2 linked regions of the Homo sapiens genome follow. The protein of the gene in region 2 purifies or fractionates together with the protein of the main gene of each other region. This does not show direct contact. Each region holds a gene or a part of one and is shown on either strand. Other genes may lie near its edges.

Region 1 (3,658 bases), on a different chromosome or scaffold from region 2:
TGGCAATATTTAATTCTTTAGGCATAGAAAGGGAAAATATTATTCAAAAGTGTCATCATTCATCATTTTAGATAAGTTAATACTGGGATTATTTTTCCATAGAGCTTTGTGTTTTAAAAATTATGTCATAAGTATCATGTCAATCAAGATCCTAAAACAAGTATTATTGAAAGTTTGAGATCAGGAAACTCGAATTCAACAAGGTTAATAATAAGAAATCTATATATATATGCTGTGTGTGTGCATGCATGTGTGCATGTGTGCGTGTGCTGTACATGATGAGCACATAGGTGTCTATCATTCTGGTTAAATATTAGAAAGCAAGCAGCAAAGTAGCCCATCCTCTTCTTTGGAATTAGAGAAACCAATGAAGTACTGTATCAAAAATTAGGGGGAGAAAGATTAGAAGTAATAAATGGTAAACAAAGTACAACACGTCTCTAACACATAGATAAACCAATAACTACTTCTATTAAGAACATGAAAACTTGGTGTTTTACCTAGATTAGAACAAGATGCAGAATTTAGCAGACAGTGATACGCTGAATAACCCTTGTGCCCTCCTCCCACAGCACTGGCTCAGACAACCACGAACAATGCCCCATCACCCCTTTGCTGTATTTCCTTTTCATTCCATCTCCATTTCCATTTCTGTGGTGGTTCAGTCAGGCTGGTGGGAAAAATTTTAGTTTTAATAGCCACAAACCTTGTTGGAAGGTCTGAGGGTTTGCATAACTTCAGTAATAAATCAGTCTGAAGGCAGCCTAGTCCCCTTATCTTTAGTTAAATAAACTAGAGTAGAAATAAAGGAATGTGGAGAGTTTACCTAACTAGCTTGTTTACTCGTGTGGTCCTAAGACTAACCTTTGATCTACCATGGGTGCTTAATTGCTTTCTACTTGGGAAGTCCACAATGTCAATTACACTCTAGTGGTGTTGACCCAAGCCTTTGTCAATTAATCTTTACTGAATAAACATAAGTCTTGCTGACTGATTGAGACCATAGTCGCAACTGTTTACAGCACTGTGCGTGGAGTCTGTAAGCGGCCCAGATGCTCAGCTGGACTGGTAAAGCAGAATATCTGTGTGTCAGTGTACTTTATTCATCCATCGTTGGGTCAGGGTCTGTGGGACAGACCCCTGCAAATTTCTGGGGAGCTATTCTGTATCTAGCTATTAGACTGCTGAAGAAACCAAGGTCTTGGGATGATGTTCAGATGACCAACACCTGGAATGGCTGCATGTTCTCTAAGGCTAACACATCTTCCTGGGCTTTGTCAGTGACTTGGAGTGTCACTACTACTCATAGGACAATGACTATTTGTTTAACCTATATAATCAGATAACAACTCTAAGCCTCAGCTTTCTTGTCTGTAAAATAAACTAACTAGCTGATTTCTAAAGTGCTAAGACCTTGCCACTACAGGAATTCTACATCCAAGAGATGTCTTGTTTTGTATTTCCTGAGGGCATGTGAATCTTTTGTATCTAGTAGCTTTGCACCTTTCTTAATGTCTAATTGTTAATTATTTAAACAAAGTGCATATAGCCAAAAAAAAAAAAAATAGAGAAAATGGCCACATATTTTCAGTAATTCCTACAGTCACTTTCAAGACTCTCACATCACTAAATGAGGAATAAAGGAGACTTTGAACTGCATAAACCCACAAATATAATAAGCTGCATTATCAAAAGTGTTTACTTGATGATGTAAGAAGTAAGAATACTGCGAGAGAGTGTAGAATCTGCAAGGTTCTACCTACCTCCTGGCCGTTCATGCTCTCCATCAGTGTGTAAAAGCATGGCAATAGGCATCCCTACGTTCTTGGATCTTCCAGCCACAACCACATTTTTTCCAAATGTTTGAATTCCTTAAAATACAGAGTTCGGTTTAAATGCAGAATTGACAACAAGAAGTAAATTAAACATTTGTACAGCCAACTGAAACATTCTTTTAAAAATTTCTAATTAAATCTGAATTATTATGTGGCTTATCTATAATATGAGCACATTCATTATTTATAAATAATTCATTTTATGCTTCTTTGATTTGTCACTTCTTCTCTGATTATGTACTCATTAAAAACCACAGACATTCTTAAGTTGACATTAAGTTGCTTTTAAACATTGAGAGTCACATTAAGAGTTAGAAGAGTAGAGTTTTAACATATATTAACTGCTTATAAAAAAAGCAAAGTACAACAATGTCGAACTTAATTGGCAATCAAATTTTGAGCAACGCTGGAACAAAACAAGTAAGAAAAGAGGCATTTTTCACAAAGCTCATGCATTTTACTCCATAGGAAAGAAGCACTAAACTTACAGACTTAGAAAGATGTAAAAAAATAAAGCCTGTAGAACCTTCTACTTCTTTTGGACTCAGTTTCTTCATAAGTAAAGCAAAGAAGTTAGAACTAAGGATTTTCCAATACTAACAGTGTAGGAGTATGATTCTAGGATCTGTTTTCCCTTGGAAGTTTTTCTTTCTCAGAAAGAAAACTTCTTTTGTAAGAGTCTGTGAGAGCATTACCGTATCCAGTACAGTACAAGGGTAAATGTTTAAAATTAAAACCCAAGCCAATAGAAATGATAACTATGTGATCAGAACATATTTTTAAAGGTACAGAAAAATATATTTTAGAAAAGTTTTCATCAAAATGCATGAAGTTTACATTTTAAAGGCCGACATATACCACTACTATGTGGAAAATTCACTTCCTATAAGTTGCAACTGCAGTTATCTATAATCTGGCTAATGCTCTTCGTTTCATTTTATTTTGGATTTTTTTTTCTGTTTGTTTTGTTTGTTTTGTTTTGTTTTTGAGACAGAGTCTTGCTCTGTCGCCCAGGCTGAAGTGCAGTGGCATGATCTCGGCTCACTGCAAGCTCCGCCTCCCAGGTTCATGCCATTCTCCTTCCTCAGCCTCCGAGGTAGCTGGGACTACAGGTGCCCGCCACCACACCTGGCTAATTTTTTGTATTTTTAGTAGAGACAGGGTTTTACTGTGTTAGCCAGGATTGTATTATGTTTTGACTTCTACAATTTTATATCTCTCTGTACACTGACGTTTTATGGATTATGATTTTCTGTCACTCTATAGGACTGAGGTAGTCCCATCAAGTCTCAGTGCACAAAGGCTCAGCTCAGCACCTAGCATCCATGTCCTGCAGACCACAAATTACCAACCTGTTCTTTTTATTATTTCCCAAACAGCACTGGCAGTGGCAGGTATGAGAGAATGCTGATCAAGGCACAATCTTCCAATATTGATAATATGAAATCCATCTACATCTTTTTCTGGGGCAATTCCATTGCATATTGTTCGCTCATCAACGTGGTCTGAAAAATAAATAAAATTTGTCTAATTTTAAAATTGTTATTTATTTGGTAGCCTGAAAAATGAAATCTGAGAATCTAAAGCCACATCACTTATAATTCGGCTCTAAAAAAGGTGTAAAGTCATTATTATTATTATTATTATTATTTGCCACCAAAATAGTAAGCCAAAGTGCTCTTGACTGATGGCTGTAATGAACTGCAGTTGGAGTATATGCTATTCCAGAGCCAAAAGTGGCTGGACCGGTGAAAGAAAAAAAATTGTGAATTAAACAATACCAATGAGATCTGGTAATAGCCAGGTGTCATGTCTTTGTTTCA
Region 2 (3,448 bases):
AATCAAACAAGAAGGGGCTGCACCTTCTGAACCATGTCAAGAGACTCTGTTTATTGTGGCATCTTTTACAACAATCAGATTCAAATGAGATGCCCTTCATTGAGCTGAGTTTTAAATGATAAAATCCATCCTGATGGAGCTTCCCATTCTACCCTAGGCATGTCTTGGTAGAAATCCAGAAGCTTTCCAGCCAAAAATTGGGAAGGGCCAATTGGGCAATGTCAAGCCCCAGCACAACAAAGGGTGCAACTGCAGGAGGTCAGGCTGCCTGAAGAATTACTGCGAGTGCTATGAGGTTAGTGCCCAGCTCCCTAACTCACTAACAAAAAACACAGGTAAATATGTTGAGTAACTTTTGTGGTTAAAAAAACTTTGCTGTAATTTAAAAAGATAAATATAATTATTTTTTTCTTCCAGAGTTTCTAGAAGGACACTTACATCAATCTGAATTAATTTCCCAAATACAGCTGAGCTTTGTGAACCGGGTCAATTTGCTGAGGGCTCCTTTTGGAGCATGTTGCTTCCCCTGAGCCCAGCCCTGAGTACCCAGTGAGGGTGCCCTCTGCGTGGCTTTGTCCCTCTGTGGCCACTGATCCACGCTGGTCCTCCAACAGGGTGGAAGCTCCCGGAGGGCAGCCGCGCCTCTTCCTCCCTGAGCAAAGCCCAGGTGCTCTAGGTGGGGCCGTGGGGGACAGTTTGGCCTCAAAGTCTCAGTCAGTTCCAAGTCCCTGTGGCGCTTGTCCCCAGACATCCATTCACCTGGTGCTTTGACCAAGGGTAGCTCCTCCCTGGCTCACAGCCCCATCAGAGACCAGAATGGACAGCCAGCCTAAGCCAATGGAGAGAGGCTAACAAAGCAAGCTGCAGATCACGGCCTGGACAAAAGCTTTTTCTTTTCCCAAAGATTAATGAGGACCCACTTTCCCCTTCAGTGCTGTCGCAGTTTCACCTCTCTTTGCTATTTCTCTTTTCCTTTGTGTTGAGGGAAAGGAGGAAAGAGAAAGTGAGGGAACCCTTAGGCCCTATCAGGGGAACAGCCGAGCAAACCTTCCTTACAAACCTCTGTTTTGGTTTGCTTGAGGTCTTTTGGGGGTTCCTGTGAATTATACTTTTCAAAGGCTGTCTGTCACAGAGGGTTGGGCTTGAGAACAGTCCACCTGATTCTGGAGACATGCACTGAAAGACCTGGGAAGGTGGACCCCACACTCCCCAGCTCGGATGTGGAAAACACAGTCAAAACACGACAGAGATGCACAGTTGAAATGGGACTGACATCACCCCCGAGGAACCACTTCCAATCGCACCCACAGCAGCTCCTCTGTCCTGCAAAACACCTTCACTGGCTGCCATGGAACTGTGGCTCAGCCCACTTCCCCAAGGCAGAGCCTATGCTGGGCACAGCCCACAGAATGTGCAGGCTCAGAGGAAAGGGATAGCACTGCCCTTTAGTCTCTGGCATTCGTGTAGACTAGAAACTCTATAAAGCCTCCTGCTTCAAAACACCCAGAGGTGCAGATGAAACAGAACGCATCCCCCTGAAGATGCATCTCTCAGCTGGAAAGAACAGAGGGAAATCCCCGGGGGGCTGAAGGAAAGAGAAAGCCAAAAACCATAGTGATTGGCAGTGCCAGCTCTTGGTCAGCCCCTGGGGCCCACATGAGCAAGAATTTGGCATGAGGGGGCAAGAGGGGGCTTGCTGGGTACAGATGGGACATGCCGGCCCCCTCAGCATCACATTGCCAGGAAAAGCTTGAAACAAAATCCACCCACAAGGCAGCAGGAGAGGTCTCCCCTGACAGCTCCCAGCCACAGGCCTGCTCTCAGGCAGATTTCGAATTCTACTCTCTTGTACATTCTCTGCACCCATAGAACCAGCATAATAGCCTCACATGCTGAAAGAGAACCATAAGCTAGAGTTTTATAATCAGCTAAGGCAGGCTTTCTTCAAAACAAGTCAAAGAAGCAGCCTGCTGGCTCCCGGGTAGAGAAGGGAGAGCAACACCCTCTCTCTGCTTGGGACTCACACCCATACACTCGGCCTCCACTCTGTCAGCAGCAGGACTATGGCATCTCCACAACAGCAGCACTTGATGAAAACTGCAGGTCACACACACACACACACTCTCAAACGCACACATTCAAACACACACAGTCACACACACATTCACATTCACTCACACATATACACACACATACCCAAACCCCACATACACTCATGCACACACACGCACACTCGACACACACACACCCCACACACACTCATATACACGCTCAACACACACACACTCTTACACATTCACACTCAACACACACACACCCCACACACACTCATACACACACTCACGTTCAACACACGCTCTCACCCACACATTCACACTCAACACACACAGACACACACACACTCTCTGTCATGGGCAAATATACGCGAAGAATTATTTAAGGTCCAAATAGAATTTGTCAGTTTTTGATGACTTGTGAGACAACCTAATTTTATTGAAGCATTTTATATTACCAGGCCCAAATTATGTGTTCTTCTATTTGCAAATGCATTGGTTGCAAAAATTATGAAGAAAGCCCAGAACGAAAGACACTAATGAGCATGCCAAACTACATGCAGACTGGAGGTTTGGAAGGCAGCCATTACCTGCCACCAACGAAATTTTCAGGACTTCCAAGATTCAGTCACGATAGGTAGGTACTTTGAACTAACCTCTGCTAATAGAGGGAACAGAGGTTAATTTGAGAGGAGAATTAACGACAATTTATACACTGGAAAGAATGTGTGAGCCTGCAGGGGCGGGCGTGTGTTTGGGGGCAGAGGGAAGTCGTTCCTCCCTCCATGGGCTAATCCTGGGTGGCCACTGTGTTTCCTTAGAGGCCCCGCTGCAGAAACCTGTTTTGTCCTCTTTGTCTTCTCATCCTCACTGTCTGAGTTACTCCCGTTTTGTACCAGACAAAAGAGCCCTGCTGCCAGGATCACCAGCAGGGCTAGCAGAGTTCTGACACTGCCTTTGCGTTAATATAGAGCCACAACGACCCAGCGCAGCAAAGACAGTGCGTACCTCCCTATCCTTTATCGTGGGAAGTGGCAGCAAAGAGCTGTACTTGGTCCAGATTGTTTTCCTTACTAAGCAGTTGTGGATCCGGATTAGTTGGATAATTTTGCATTTATCAGTTTTGAAGCCACATTGTAATCCTAGTAGTTCTCAAAGTTGAGTCATAGTTTTACTATCTATTAGATTCCATTCATTTGTTTAAAAAAAACTTCGAGTTCAATGTAATGGTCATATCATGATAAACTACCAGATGTCATTAATTAATATTTTGCAAAGCCAAATTCATGCTTATTTGGTTAGAGAGATATCAGAAATACTCATGATTGTGACCTACAGGGGTCTTTTTTTTGAGACCAGGGCTTTCACTCAGTTGCTCAGGCTGGAGTGCAGTG

The links.
Region 1: the proteins of TESMIN (region 2) and MTHFD2L purify together in Homo sapiens (affinity purification with mass spectrometry; one large-scale study listed by BioGRID and IntAct). This does not show direct contact.

The regions. Positions count from the first base shown.
Region 1 is NC_000004.12:74,199,476-74,203,133, reverse strand, and holds part of MTHFD2L (bifunctional methylenetetrahydrofolate dehydrogenase/cyclohydrolase 2, mitochondrial), read right to left. Parts: intron 3,341-3,658; coding exon 3,188-3,340; intron 1,872-3,187; coding exon 1,764-1,871; intron 671-1,763; exon of another isoform or gene 501-670; intron 1-500. UniProt on the Homo sapiens protein: Bifunctional mitochondrial folate-interconverting enzyme that has both NAD/NADP-dependent methylenetetrahydrofolate dehydrogenase and methenyltetrahydrofolate cyclohydrolase activities.
Region 2 is NC_000011.10:68,710,117-68,713,564, reverse strand, and holds part of TESMIN (tesmin), read left to right. Parts: intron 1-157; coding exon 158-295; intron 296-2,515; coding exon 2,516-2,691; intron 2,692-3,448.